Linked DNA regions of Homo sapiens. The protein of the gene in region 1 interacts with the protein of each later gene in a pairwise test. Each region holds a gene or a part of one and is shown in the gene's direction. Other genes may lie near its edges.

The links. The genes of interacting proteins can lie anywhere in the genome.
Region 2: the proteins of SEC23IP (region 1) and SSC5D interact in binary tests that used the Homo sapiens proteins (3 or more experiments, as listed by UniProt).

The regions. Positions count from the first base shown.
Region 1 is NC_000010.11:119,937,700-119,944,730, forward strand, and holds the end of SEC23IP (SEC23-interacting protein), read left to right. Parts: intron 1-2,886; 3' UTR 2,887-6,958; downstream 6,959-7,031. UniProt on the Homo sapiens protein: Plays a role in the organization of endoplasmic reticulum exit sites. Specifically binds to phosphatidylinositol 3-phosphate (PI(3)P), phosphatidylinositol 4-phosphate (PI(4)P) and phosphatidylinositol 5-phosphate (PI(5)P).
Region 2 is NC_000019.10:55,512,412-55,519,442, forward strand, and holds the end of SSC5D (soluble scavenger receptor cysteine-rich domain-containing protein SSC5D isoform 1 precursor), read left to right. Parts: intron 1-599; coding exon 600-761; intron 762-4,812; coding exon 4,813-6,587; 3' UTR 6,588-6,688; downstream 6,689-7,031.

The DNA.
Region 1 (7,031 bases):
TTTTCTTTTTAGTTCTTTTTTTCCCCATTTGGCTTTGTAATTTAGAAGAGTAAGGTGTAGAGAACAATTTAACTTTTTTCTTACATAATCGTTTCTGTCTGTGCCATATATTGAATAATGTACCCTTTTGTCATTGGTTTGATATTTTTATCATATGCCAAATATTTTGCTGTTGTTTGACATTTTAATTAATATTTGTTTCCTAGGCTTTCTCATCTCTTCTGGTGATTTATTTGTCTATGATACTTCATTGATTTCAAGCCATTTATTTTCCACATTTTAACATATTTAAATTTGTAATGCATCTTAAAATCTGCTGTTGGGGCTGGTGCAGTGGCTCATACCTGTAATCCCAGCGCTGTGGGAGGATTACTTGAGCCCAGGAGTTTGAGACCAGCCTGGGCAACATAGTGAAACCTCGTCTCTTAAAAAAAAAAAAAAAAAAAATTTAAGTCAGCTGTTGCCTTAACGGAAGTTGAGTTCTTTCTGAGAAGCTGTGCATTCTCTTCTGCTGGTCACTGGGGGAGGGGCTTTACCAACTTGCCTCTGCTTAAGCTAATTTCTCTGCTTGGGATTTTTTAGGATGATGCTGGTAGTGTGATTTCAGCCCCCAAAATTTGCAGGGATGGGGTTGTCAGTTCAGATATTGGAGTTTTTGTTCCCTCTTTCCATTGTCAAGGAAGAGGTGCGCAGGCCTCTTTGCCATCCCTTCTGCATGTAGTTGCTTGCTTTTATCCCTCATTGAGACTATAGATGTTTAGTCCCCCACTTTTTGTGAGGGGTTCTCCTTTGAGACTCCCTTTCTGGGCATCTTTTTATGGTACATAACAGTGAAGTGTCACAATCAACAGTGTCTTAGATTTGGTGAAATATGGTGTTTTAATAATTGTAATTTTTTACATAATATCTGGCAGTAGAAGTTCTCAGTATACCATAGTCTTTGCAGTTATCCCGAATGAAGTTCGAAATAATTTAAGTTCCCCTGACGCTCTCTCCCCTAACAAAACAAAGCAAGACAAACAAAACCAAAAGAATAGTAATTCTAGGATTTTGCCATCACCTTATATGGAAAACTCAGAACCTTCTATTTCACATATGATTCGTTCACTATAATTGTTTTATTTACTTCTTCTTACACTTGGCTGTAAAATTTAGGCAAGAATTTAAGTTTCTAATACTATACTAATGTCATAAGATAATCCATTTAAAATGTTAACAATTATTCTATACATAGTTCATTCAAGCTTAGATCAGTTTTGCTGAATGGTTGTTTTATGTTCATGTCCTTTTAGACCTTTTTAGGATTGTTCTTTGAAAAGCCTCAAATTGGCCAGGTGTGGTGGCTTACACCTGTAATCTTAGCACTTTGGAGGCTGAGGCAGGCAGATCGCTTGAGCTCAGGAGTTCGAGACCAGCTTAGCAACATAGACAAGACATTACTTGTCTCTACTAAAAGTAAAAAAAAAAAAATCACTGGGGCATGATGGTGTGCACCTGTAGTCCCAGCAACTTGGGAGGCTGAGGTGGGAGGATTGCTGGAGTTCGGGAGATTGAGGCTGCAGTGAGCTGTGATCGTACCACTGCACTCCAGCCTGGATTATAGAGTGAGACCCTGTCTCAAAAATAAATAATTAAATAAAAAATAAAAAAGCCTCAAATTAACATGGCAGATAACTAACTTTATTTTTTATTAATATTTTAGCTGGTCACGGTGGCTCATGCCTGTAATCCCAGCACTTTGGGAGGCCAAGGCGGATCACAAGGTCAGGAGTTCGAGACCAGCCTGGCCAAATAGTGAAATCTTGTCTCTACTAAAAATACAAAAATTAGCCGGGCGTGGTAGCACACACCTGTAGTCCCAGCTACTTGGGAGGCTGAGGCAGGAGAATCTTTTGAACCTGGGAGACTGAGGGTGCAGTGAGCTGAGATCGTGCCATTGCACTCCTGCCTGGGCGACAGGGCGAGACTCTGTCTCAAAGAAAAAAAATAAAATAAAATATTTTAATTTTTTGAGAAGGGGTCTCACTCTGTCACCCAGCTTGTGTGAGTGCAGTGGCGCAATCTTGGCTCACTGCAACCTCTGACTCCCAGGCTCAAGCGATCCTCCTAACTTAGCATCTCGAGAGGCTGGGACCACAGGTGTGCACCACCACGTCTGGCTAATTTTTTTATTTTTTGGTAGAGACAGGGTTCCCCCAAGTTGCCCAGGCTGGTCTCGAACTTCTGAGCTGAGATGATCCACTTGCCTCGGCCTCCCACAGTGCTGGGATTACAGGCGTGAGCCACAACACTTGGCCATAACTAACTTTAAATTGTGTCTTTTACTCTCTGTACTGGCTTTGCTATGAAGAAATCATGCTGGTTAATCTTACTGAGTGTTTCCTGGGCATTCTTGTCCCTTTGGAAGGCCTGAGGACTTGCTTACAGGCTGTGCTCTTTGGAGGCGGTTTGCAGTGTTTGTCAGTAAAGTTGAGCACTGGATTGTCCATTTTTTTTTTTTTTTTTTGAGATGGAGTCTCACCCTGTCCCCAAGGCTGGAGTGCAGTGGCGTCATCTTGGCTCACTGCAAGCTCCGCCTCCCGTGTTCACACCATTCTCCTGCCTCAGCCTCCAGAGTAGCTGGGATTACAGGCACCCGCCACCATGCCCAGCTAATTTTTTGTATTTTCAGTAGAGATGGGGTTTCACCATGTTAGTCAGGATGGTCTCGATTTCCTGACCTTGTGATCTGCCCACCTCGGCCTCCCAAAGTGCTGAGATTACAGGCGTGAGACACCGTGCCTGGCCGATTGTCTGTTCTTTTACTTCAGAAAAGACAACGATGCATGGTATTTGACTGTAAATTTGTAAAGTTCACTGAGGTTTTTTTTTTTTTTCCTTTTTAAGACTTTCTTGTCTGCACAGAAAGTCCCAGTACAACTTCCATTGCTGAGAAAATCCTCAGAGGACTTTCCCACTTCGCTCCTGTGATGGATGACAGAAGAGTGATTCATTAACAATTGCTCAGCCACAATTCTCGGATATAGGGATTCAAAAGACAGGACACAGAACTAACACAGTGAAAAAAATCAGTACCACATTTGGACAGTATAGGTGAGAAAACATAATTATAAAAATGATGCCATGAAAAATTCCACAGATCAGTTTAGTTGTATAGTTGTCAAAGTTATATGTGATATCAATGAAGAAATATTTGTAGCATGTAAACGGTTATTTCTGTTTCTTAAAAAGTATTGTTAGTGGGCTATTAAACTTGGATTTTTCTTTTTATTAATGCAGTATGTTCTTTTTATTCAAGTATGAACTTGTTGAGAAACTATAGTAATATGATTTTTAAGAGATTTATGTTCTACTTAAAATGTGAATTGTACTTCTGAGCTGCCTTAATGCAAGGTCATTTATATTTGTTAAGAGGAAATAATCAAGATCACTCATATCCCAACTGAATCTGAGGTTTTATAAATCCCTCAAACGATTGCTGAGAGCCTGATTGTGGAAAGAAGTGAGATGCACCTTATTTTCAAGAAGTCCTGGGAAGCGCTCTCCTAGCACGTCCATTTCCAGGAGGAGAAGCAAGCAGATGAGAGGTTTTCCATTTTGTCATCCAAGGTAGCTGTGCACTTGCCTTGTTGCTGAAGTTCCAATAATGTGAAAACCAAAGTAGAGGTTTTTTTCTTCTTCTTTTTGTTTTCTATTAATTTCACTTATACCAAAGTGTTTGAAAGTATGAAATGTGTTGCTTCTGAGTTATATAAGGCTACTTCATGACAAGACTGCTTTGTAATATTTCACTTTGTTTTACTACAAATTCAGATCACTTTGTTTTACTATAAATTCAGATTATCCAAATATTTTCCTAATACTATGTGGGAATGCTGATTTTCTTTTGTTACGTAGTGGAAACATTTTGCATTGTTTACATAGTTCTCATGGAACATGGAAATTTTTGAAAGTGATATATGATACACATTTTTTGTGTATGTATTCTAATTAGTGTGAATAAAGCAGTAACATTAATGCATTTTTTAAGCAGCAAACTTATGTATTTCTCTTGTCTTCCTTAAAAGTGTCCCCATGAACTCAGTGTTTATTCCCTTTTCATTTTGAGTACCTGCTTATATGGTCAGTATGTAACGTTAGCATTGGCTCCTAATGGTAGAATTAGAACAGCAAGATTGTAGAGCTGTAATTGACTCCAGACAACATAGATTTCAGCCACCTCATTCTACAGCTGAGGCCAGGACAATAAATGCCTTTCCCAGACTGGGTAGTGGCAGATCTGGGATGGAATATGGTTTTCTTGATTCCCTTTCAGCCTTCATTTCTCTCTCTCAGGACTACTACTTTTTAATTACTTTTCACTTAATTTCCCAATACTGATGAAATAAAGAAAAATGAGGGTTATTTATATACATTTCAATAAAATCCAATTTGATTTTTCAACTTACATCTGATTTTTGTTTGTGTCATTCAGCCTGTCTTCTGAGTAATGGGCAGAGAAGGACCAGGGTTCGTAGAAGAAGCATGTGGCAGCTGAGTGGCAGCAGTCTTGCCCTTTCATTTTAATACTTGAGTACACAGAAAATAGAATTTTTGAGTGACTCTGCCTGTGGATATATATACTCATACATACATATATATATATACACACACACATATGTATGTATGTATGTATTACTATTCAGTCTCTTAAAAACCAAAAAACAGTAGATCCCCTGAGGGTAGAGTCTTTATGTATGAACATATTGTTCACTGTTGTAACCACCTTGCAGGATTTCAGTCTATAAACTAGGTGAGAATCCAGCTGCTGAGTGAAGCTTGATCTCTGCCTCTTCCTCAGGAGCAGCTCATCCCCTGACAACCTCCCCTCCCAGCCCCTAATCTGGTTTAATGCCCTCCTTTTCCCCAGATAAAGAAAGTCATGTCTGTAGTTATTCCAAAAGTGTTTCATGTGTAGAGTTTGGCACAAAAAGTAAAAAGCGCCAGCATCTGAAGTCAAAGGTGAAAGAGTCATCACAGTACTGATGAAGACACCCAGGCCTCGTCAGCTATGTTAACGTGCTGTATGACAAGAGGAACCTGCTTTCTAAGTCTGCTGGACACGCGTGCTTCTTGAATCCAACCAGACAAGCATGTTTTCTCAAAACCACAGTATAAGACAAGGAAACTGCACAGATTCGAGTGATTTTTGAGGTAAGTATGTTATTGGAAAGGTGTGATCTATATAGAACCCTGTACATGAAAAGGAGGAGATGCCGCTATCTTGGCAGGGATGATCATGTATTTGAAATAGTAACTCACAGCATTTGGTCTCATGATAAGAGTACTGAAGATTATCCCAGAAAACCTAGGATGATTGGTATTTATAGTACCATTGTTTCAGGTTTTTATGACTTGAGGCATCTAACTATCTTAATGCTGTACTTTAGTGTTTACCAAGCAGCTTTCTGGTGGAAACTTGAACTGCAGACACTGAGTGTTTTGGTTTTCCTCCAAGTTATAGTTCTCATTGTAACTTAATAAGTTGGCATTCCAGCTTAGTTTGAGTCAGTTTCCCAGGGCTGGGTCCTCAGAGGAGAGTGGATAGAATTCAGTTCCTCTATGAGCTGGGGTGCTGACATTGTGTTCCTGCTGTTGACTGTCCCTGCGGTGCACGGGACAGACTGTCAGCTAACCTGTCTTCATGACATTTCTATAATACTCCTCAGGGGGTTAACCCCATCTCTACTAAAAATAAAAAAAATTAGCTGGGCATGGTGGCATGTGCCTGTAGTCCCAGCTACAGGAGGCTGAGGCAGGAGAATTGCTTGAACCCAGGAGGTGGAGGTTGCAGTGAGTTGGGATCTCGCCACTGCACTCTAGCCTGAGTGACAGAGCGAGACTCTGTCTCAAAAAAAAATAAATGAATAAAAAATAAAACAGCAACTCTTGCAGATTTCCCGAATGTATTGGTCCCAGAGAACACTGAAAATAATGTCATGTTGTTAACACCAGTGGGAGTTTGGGAAATAATTCCAGCTCTTTAATACTTCTTTCAGCTTCAGATTAAGTGAAATGAGTTTCACATATTTCAATATATGAAATTTTATGATGACACATAAAACAGGCCAGGGGTTATTGAGGACACATCTGTGAGATAGTGGGCAATGCTACATATTCGTTAGTGGATGTGCTGCAGTTCAGGTTCATGGACAGGTGGGACTGGTGTGGTTGGGATAACCCACCATGTTTGTCTTTCATTTCTTGTATAAAGAGTGGTTTTTAAAAGACCTTACTATGGAATTTTCACAAATACTCAAAAGTATGGAGAATGGTACAGTGAATCCCCATGTGCCCTTTTCCCAGCTTCAGGGGTGGTGTCAGTGATAATGATTTGGCTCTGTGTCCCCACCCAAATCTCATCTTGAATTGTAATCCCCACGTGTCAGGGGAGGGACCTGGTGGGAGGTGATTGGATCATGGGGGCTGTTTCCCCATGCTGTTCTTGTGATAGTGAGGGAGTTCTCACAAGATCTGATGGTTTTAAAAGTGGCAGTTTTCCCTGCACTCTCTCCTGCCACCTTGTGAAGAAGGTGCCTGCTTCCCCTTTGCCTTTCGTCACAATTGTAAGTTCCCCGAGGTTCGTCATGATTGTAAGTTTCCTGAGGTCTCCCCAACCATGCAGAACTGTGAGTCACTTGAACCCCTTTTGTTTATAAATTGCCCAGTCTCAGGTAGTACCTTGATAGCAGTGTGAAAATGGACTAATACAGTCAGGGACCTAAAAGACAGGTAAAGAGATGTGGCCAGGTGAAGACGGAAAAAGGACAGTGCATTCCAGACCTGTGGAAAGACGCGAGGTTGGAAAGAACATCACAACTGGGGCGACTGAAGAAATTATGTTGTTAAGCACGAAATGCAGAGAGAGAGCTATGTGAATGTGTTGAGTGTGATTTTCATTAAACAATTTTTAAAGAAAGCATTTCTAGTGGTGCTTTTATTTTTGCAGCCGCTTAATAGCATTCACTCTTGTTGAAAGGAGCACAGTTTGG
Region 2 (7,031 bases), on another chromosome or scaffold:
GTGAATTAATAAAGATGTTATGGTTTTTCCCCCGCTAGGGCAGGAGCCTTGAGGAATTAAAATAATAAATTCCTTTTTTTTTTTTTTTGAGGCGGTGTCTCGCTCTGTCACCCAGGCAGGAGTGCAGTGGCACAGTCTTGGCTCACTGCAACCTCTGTCTCCCAGGTTCAAGTGATTCTCCTGTCTCAGCCTCCCGAGTAGCTGGGATTATAGGCGTGTGCCACCATACCCAGCTAATTTTTTGTATATTTAGTGCAGATGGGGTTTCTCCATGTTGGCCAGGCTGGTCTTGAGCTCCTGACCTCAAGTGATCTGCCTGCCTCAGCCTCCCAAAGTGCTGGGATTACAAGCTTGAGCCACGGCGCCAGGCCCAAATGCCCTTCATTTTATGTGCTAGTTTAGTGACCGTTTCCGTCGTTGGTAGCCAAAAACATCCCAGCTGAATGGAGAAGGTCTCCACGAGGTCAGGTAGGGCTGCAGTGGCGGTGCAGTTGAGACGGGATGATGCCTGAACTGGGGCTGGCCCAGGAGGAGAGAGACGGGGAGTCAAACTCAAAGGGAAGTTGGAAGACTCAATCCTCTTCCCCATATCTCTCTAGGCAGCAAAGATGGTTACAAGCTTCCCTGGACGTGGGACACACCATCAGGAAGGGGCCTGGCTGAGGGGACCCCTACCGCAGGCAAACTAGGACCAACTCTTGGGGCTGGCACCACCAGGAGCCCAGGCAGTCCTCCAACTCTGAGAGTCCATGGAGACACAGGTGAGACACGTGGCTGGGGTGAGGAGACTGGGACGGTATTTGTCCTGGGGTAAAGAGACAGATTCCAGACTCCCCACTGGAACCCTTACCCCAGAAAGACTCAGCAGAAATATACCCTAAAACAAAGGGTTATCGGCTGAGCATGGTGGCTCATGCCTGTAATCACAGCACTTTGGGAGGCCGAGTTGGGAGGATTGCTTAAGCTCGGGAGTTTGAGAGCAGCCTGGGCAACATGGTGAGCCCCCCAAGATATGAACATTAGCTGGGTGTGGTGGTACGCACGTGTGGTCCCAGCTGCTTGGGAGGCTGAGGCAGGAGGATCCCTTGAGCCTGGGTGCTCGAGGCTGTGGTTGTGCCACTGTATTCCAGCCTGGGTGCCAGAGCGAGACCTTGTCTCAAATAAAGACAAAAACAGAACCAAGAGGTTATTATCTAGACCGCTGGTCATCAACTAGGGTCGATTTTGCCCCCAAGGGGAATTTGGCAATATCTGAAGATATTTTGGATTGTCATGGCAGGAAGTGAGAGGCTACCCATTGGCACCTGATCGGTAGAGGCCGGGGTGGTGATAAACATTCACAATGCACACGACATTCCCCATAACAAAGAACCACCCAGCCCTAAATTACAATAGTACCGAGGTTGAGAAACCCCAGCCTAGATGGCATAAGTCACTGTGACAAATAGGAAAATGATAGGAAACCCTAGATGAGAAAGAGGAAAACAGGTGATTCCCAGAAAAGGAAGCCCAAATGGCTGAGTGTATTTAGAAATGCCCACGCTCATCAGGAACCAGAAAATACAAATTAAAACAATGGCAAGTACAGAGGAGAATGAGAAAGGTGGGTATTATCCAGTGTGAGTGAGGATGTGGGAAGACAGGCAACCCCACTGGACAGAGCTGTTTGATAAAGACAATCCAGCAGTATTTAGTAAAGTTAAGCATGATTAGGCTGGCTGCAATGGCTGACGCCTGTAATCCCAGCACTTTGGGAGGCTGAGGCGGGCAGATCACGAGGTCAGGAGATCGAGACCATCCTGGCTAACACGGTGAAACCCTGTCTTTACTAACAATACAAAAAATTAGCCAGGCGTGGTGGTAGGCACCTATGGTCCCAGCTACTCGGGAGGCTGAGGCAGGAGAATGGCGTGAACCCAGGAGGCAGAGCTTGCAGTGAGCCGAGATTGCGCCACTGCACTCCAGCCTGGGCAACAGAGTGAGACTCTGTCTCAAAATAATAATAATAATAATAATAATAATAATAATAATAATAATAATAATAATAGGTGTGGTGGCAGGCGCCTGTAATCCCAGCTACTCGGGAGGCTGAGGCAGGAGAACTGCTTGAACCTGGGAGGCGGAGGTTGCAGTGAGCTGAGATCGCACCACTGCACTCCAGCCTGGGCAACAGAGAAAGACTCTGTTAAAAAAAAAAAAAAAAGAGAGAGAGAGAAGAAGGGAGGAAGGGAGAAAGGAGGGAAGGAAATCTGCATGAGCTCCATGACGTAGATCTATAATTTTGCCCATTTCTCAGATGAGTGAAATTGAGGCACAGACATCAGTGACTCTGACATCAATAATTATTAGAGTGCTTATTCCATGCTAGACATTACACTAAGTGCTTTGCACAACCATGGTCTCCCTGAGTCCTTTTGACAGCTCTGCAAGGGAGATACGCGGATCATCCACAGTCTATAGCTGAGGAAGAAACTGAGATTCAAGCAGTGAAGTAACTTGGCCGTGGTCACCCCGCTAGGAAGCCATGCAGCTGGGGTTTAAACTCGGACAGCCTGCCTTGAGCACAAGCCCTTTACTTAACCGCTTCTCCAATCCTGCAAACAAAGGACAAGGTGGGGAAGGGATGCGCCTGAAAGACCCTGCCCTGCAGGAACAAGTGGAAATCTGTAGATCTGTGTGGTTCAATACGGTAGCTAAGAGCACCGGGCATGGTGGCTCACGCCTGAAATTCCAGCACTTTGGGAGGCTGAGGCAGGCAGATCACCTGAGGTCGGGGGTTCAAGACTAGCCTGAACAACATAGTGAAACCCCATCTCTACTAAAAATACAAAAAAATTAGCTGGGCATGGTGGCACATGCCTGTCATCCCAGCTACTCAGGAAGTGGACACAGGAGAATCACTTGAACCCAGGAGGCGGAGATTGCAGCGAGCCAAGATCGCGCCACTGCACTCCAGCCTGGGCAACAGGAGTGAAACTCCGTCTCAAAAAAAAAAAAAAAAAAAAAGTTAAATGAATTAACACTTTGAAAATGAAACATTTGCCGGGCGCAGTGGCCACGCCTGTAATCCCAGCACTTTGGGAGGCCGAAGCGGGCGGATCACGAGGTCAGGAGATCGCGACCGTCCTGGCTAACACAGTGAAACCCCATCTCTACTAAAAATACAAAAAATTAGCAGGACATGGTGGCGAGCGCCTGTAGTCCCAGCTTCTCGGGAGGCTGAGGCAGGAGAATGGCATGAACCTGGGAGGCAAAGCTGGCAGTGAGGCGAGATCGTGCCACTGCACTCTAACCTGGGCGACAGAGTGAGACTCCGTCTCAAAAAAAAAAATAAAATAAAATAAAAGAAAATGAAACATTTAGTTTCTCATTCACACTGGCCGCATTTCAAGGGCTTGGTAGCCACATGTGGCCAGTGGCTACTGTATTGGCACGGTAGATCACAGCGCATTCCCATCACTGCAGATGTGAGATTTCATTGCCTAGACTCTATGTGCAAACAACTTGGGTTCAAGTCTTAGCCCTGCAACTTGCAAACTATGTCTGTGTGACCTTGGGCGAGTCACCTGCCCTCTTGCCCTAATTTCCCCCTTCTGTAAAATGGGGATAAAATTGGCACTCACTTGGAAGACAGCCCCAGAAGAGGGTCAGGCTCCTCCTGCTACTCAGGCCCAAAATTTAAGGGGGTGCCCAAAACGCCAAAATCAAGATACATAATATCATAATACAGTATTTTTTAAAATGAAAATTAATGCCAAAAAAAAAAAAACCCATGATGAACTCGGTATCAAAAATGTAACTGAAGGCCGGGCGCGATGGCTCATGCCTGTAATCCCAGCACTTTGGGAGGCCCAGGCGGGCGGATCACGAGGTCAGGAGATCGAGACCATCCTGGCCAACACGGTGAAACCCCGTCTCTACTAAAAATACAAAAAATTAGCCTGGTGTGGTGGCGGGCGCCTGTAGTCCCAGCTACTCGGGAGGCTGAGGCAGGAGAATGGTGTGAACCCGGGAGGCGGAGCTTGCAGTGAGCCGAGATCACGCCACTGCACTCCAGCCTGGGCGACAGAGCGAGACTCCATCTCAAAAAAAAAAAAAAAGTCACTGAAGACAGGATCCTATCCGCCTCGCTGGGCTCCCCCTAATCCTGGCCCTGTTGGATCCCGTCTTTGGTTAAAATGTTAACTTTGGTTAACTGTGGATCTTTTGGATTAATTTTGATTGTTTAAAAATATTGCATAAAAACGCTTGAGCCCAGGAGTTCGAGGTTACAGTGAGCTATGATCTTGCCACCGCACTCCAGCTTGGGCGACACAGCCAGACTTTATCTTAAAAAATAAAAAAATCCATAAAAGTATTTATTTTGATTACTAACATTACCCTTCGGAGCCCTCTTTGGTCTCCCTGCCTCCCCTGGCTCCGCACATCTCCCAGTCCCCCGCTGGCTCAGAATCCTCCCGTATGCTGCACGCTTCTGAGCACTCCCGCCCCCTCCCGCACCCCAGCACCCCACGCATCCCTCCCTCACCTCACCCTCCTGCACCCGCTCCCGCAACCCGCGTGCCCCTCGGCATCCCCGAGTCCGGAGCATCCCCGCATCCTCCCGCAGTGGAGGACGCCAGGTGGCGCCTGGAGCCATCGGAGGACGTAGGGAGGAGGGGCCCTAGGGCCGGGTGAAGTCTGCCGGTGACCCATGACGTCTCGAGGCTCTGTGCCTTTCCATTGGTCGGCTCCTCGAGGGGCGGGGCGGGACGCGTGGTGGGCGGAGCCGGTTGACCTCAGACCGTCCGTCTGTCTTTCCTCCTCCTCCAGGTTCCCCGAGGAAACCGTGGCCCGAGCGCCGGCCACCGCGGCCCGCTGCGACCAGGACAGCGCCCCCAACCCCGTCCCCAGGTCCCTCCGCCTCTCCGGGACCCCCAGGCCCAGCGCTGACCTCTGACTCCAGTCGAGAGCTCACTCCCCACTCAGCCTTGACGTCCGAGGCGACCTCTGACGCTCCGGACACTTCACCACCCACCCCAGACCCGGCCTCCCGGACGAACCCCGACCTCATCTTGACAAGCCCTGACTTTGCTTTGTCCACCCCTGACTCCAGTGTGGTTCCCGCGTTGACCCCGGAGCCCTCACCCACGCCCTTACCCACCTTGCCCAAAGAGCTGACCTCTGACCCTTCTACACCGTCGGAGGTGACCAGCCTTTCCCCTACCTCAGAGCAGGTCCCAGAATCTGACACAACCCCAGATTTGGACACAACTCCATACTCCAGTACAGTCTCAGAATATTCTAGATCCCCAGACCCCTCCCCAAGCCCTCACCCCACTACTACCCCTGATCCCACCATGGCCCCTGACCCCATCACAACCCTTAACCCTACTGTGACCCCTCACTTCCCTACCACCCCTCACCCCACCACGACCCCTCACCCCACCACCATCACTCACTCCACCATGATTCCTGACCCCACCACAACCCCTCAACCCTTCACCACCATCACTCACTCCACCATGATTCCTGACCCCACCACAACCCCTCAACCCTTCACCACCATGCAGCCCACCACAACCCCTCACTCCACAACCCCTCACCCCACCACGACCCCTCATCCCACCACCATCACTCACTCCACCATGATTCCTGACCCCACCACAACCCCTCAACCCTTCACCACCATGCAGCCCACCACGATGCCTCATCCCACCACGACCCCTCACCCCACCACGACTCCTCACCCCACCACAACCCCTCACCCCACCACAACCCCTCACCCCACCATGACTCCTGACCCCACCACGACCCCTTACCCCACCACTACTCCTGATCCCACCACGACCCCTCACCCCACAACTCCTGACCCTTCCTCAACCCCTGTCATCACTACTGTGTCCCTTCCAACCTCCTTGGGGACAGAACTCTCCTCTCCCACTCTAGCACCAACAGTCAAGCCCAGTCTGCACCCCCAGTTGACCTTCACAGCACCTGCCCCTCACACCTCCACATCCCAGATACCCACCTTAGAGCCCTCTCCAGCCTTGGAGTCCAGCCCCTCCAGGTCCTCCACAGCCACAAGCATGGACCCACTGTCCACTGAGGACTTCAAGCCACCCAGAAGCCAGAGCCCCAACCTAACCCCTCCACCCACCCATACCCCACACTCAGCCTCTGACCTTACTGTGTCCCCTGACCCCCTCCTTTCCCCCACAGCCCACCCCTTGGATCATCCTCCCCTTGACCCCCTCACCCTAGGGCCAACTCCTGGTCAGAGCCCAGGCCCCCATGGTCCATGTGTGGCCCCAACACCACCTGTAAGGGTCATGGCTTGTGAGCCACCTGCCCTGGTGGAGCTGGTGGCTGCTGTGAGGGATGTGGGTGGTCAGCTGCAGAGACTGACCCAGGTCGTGGAACAGGAGCGGCAGGAGCGCCAAGCCCTGCTGCTGGGGCTGACGCAGCTGGTAGAAGCTGCCCGGGGTCTGGGGCAGCTGGGTGAGGCTGTGAAGAGACTGGCAGAGATGGCCTGGACCACCAGCATGCCTGCACCAACCACCACTACCCCAGAGGAAGAAGAAAGACCCCTGAGGGGAGACGTGTGACCCTCTCCAGGATTTGAGGGGCTTAAGACACCCCCAACCAAAAAAAACAAAAACAAAAAAAACCCCCAAAGTATCTAATTAAAAACAAGGTGTGAATGGTATTTTTGGGGAATCCTAGAAAGACAGAATCACAAGACTGATTTTGATATGTGAATAGCCCAGGTGCCATGCCAGGCGGTGTTGATGATGGAGATGATTATGAGGGTGGTGATGATGGTGATGATCGTGATGGTGATGGCGACGGAGATCATGATAGGGTGATGATCATTGTGGTGAGGGTCATGGTGATAATGGTAAGATGGTGGTGGTGATGAAGATGGTGAAATAATGCTGATGATCATGAGGGAATGGTCATGGTGATGAGGCGGTGAACATGATGATGATGATTATCATGATGATGATGATGGTCCTGGTCATGAGGGAATGGTCATGGTGATGAGGCGG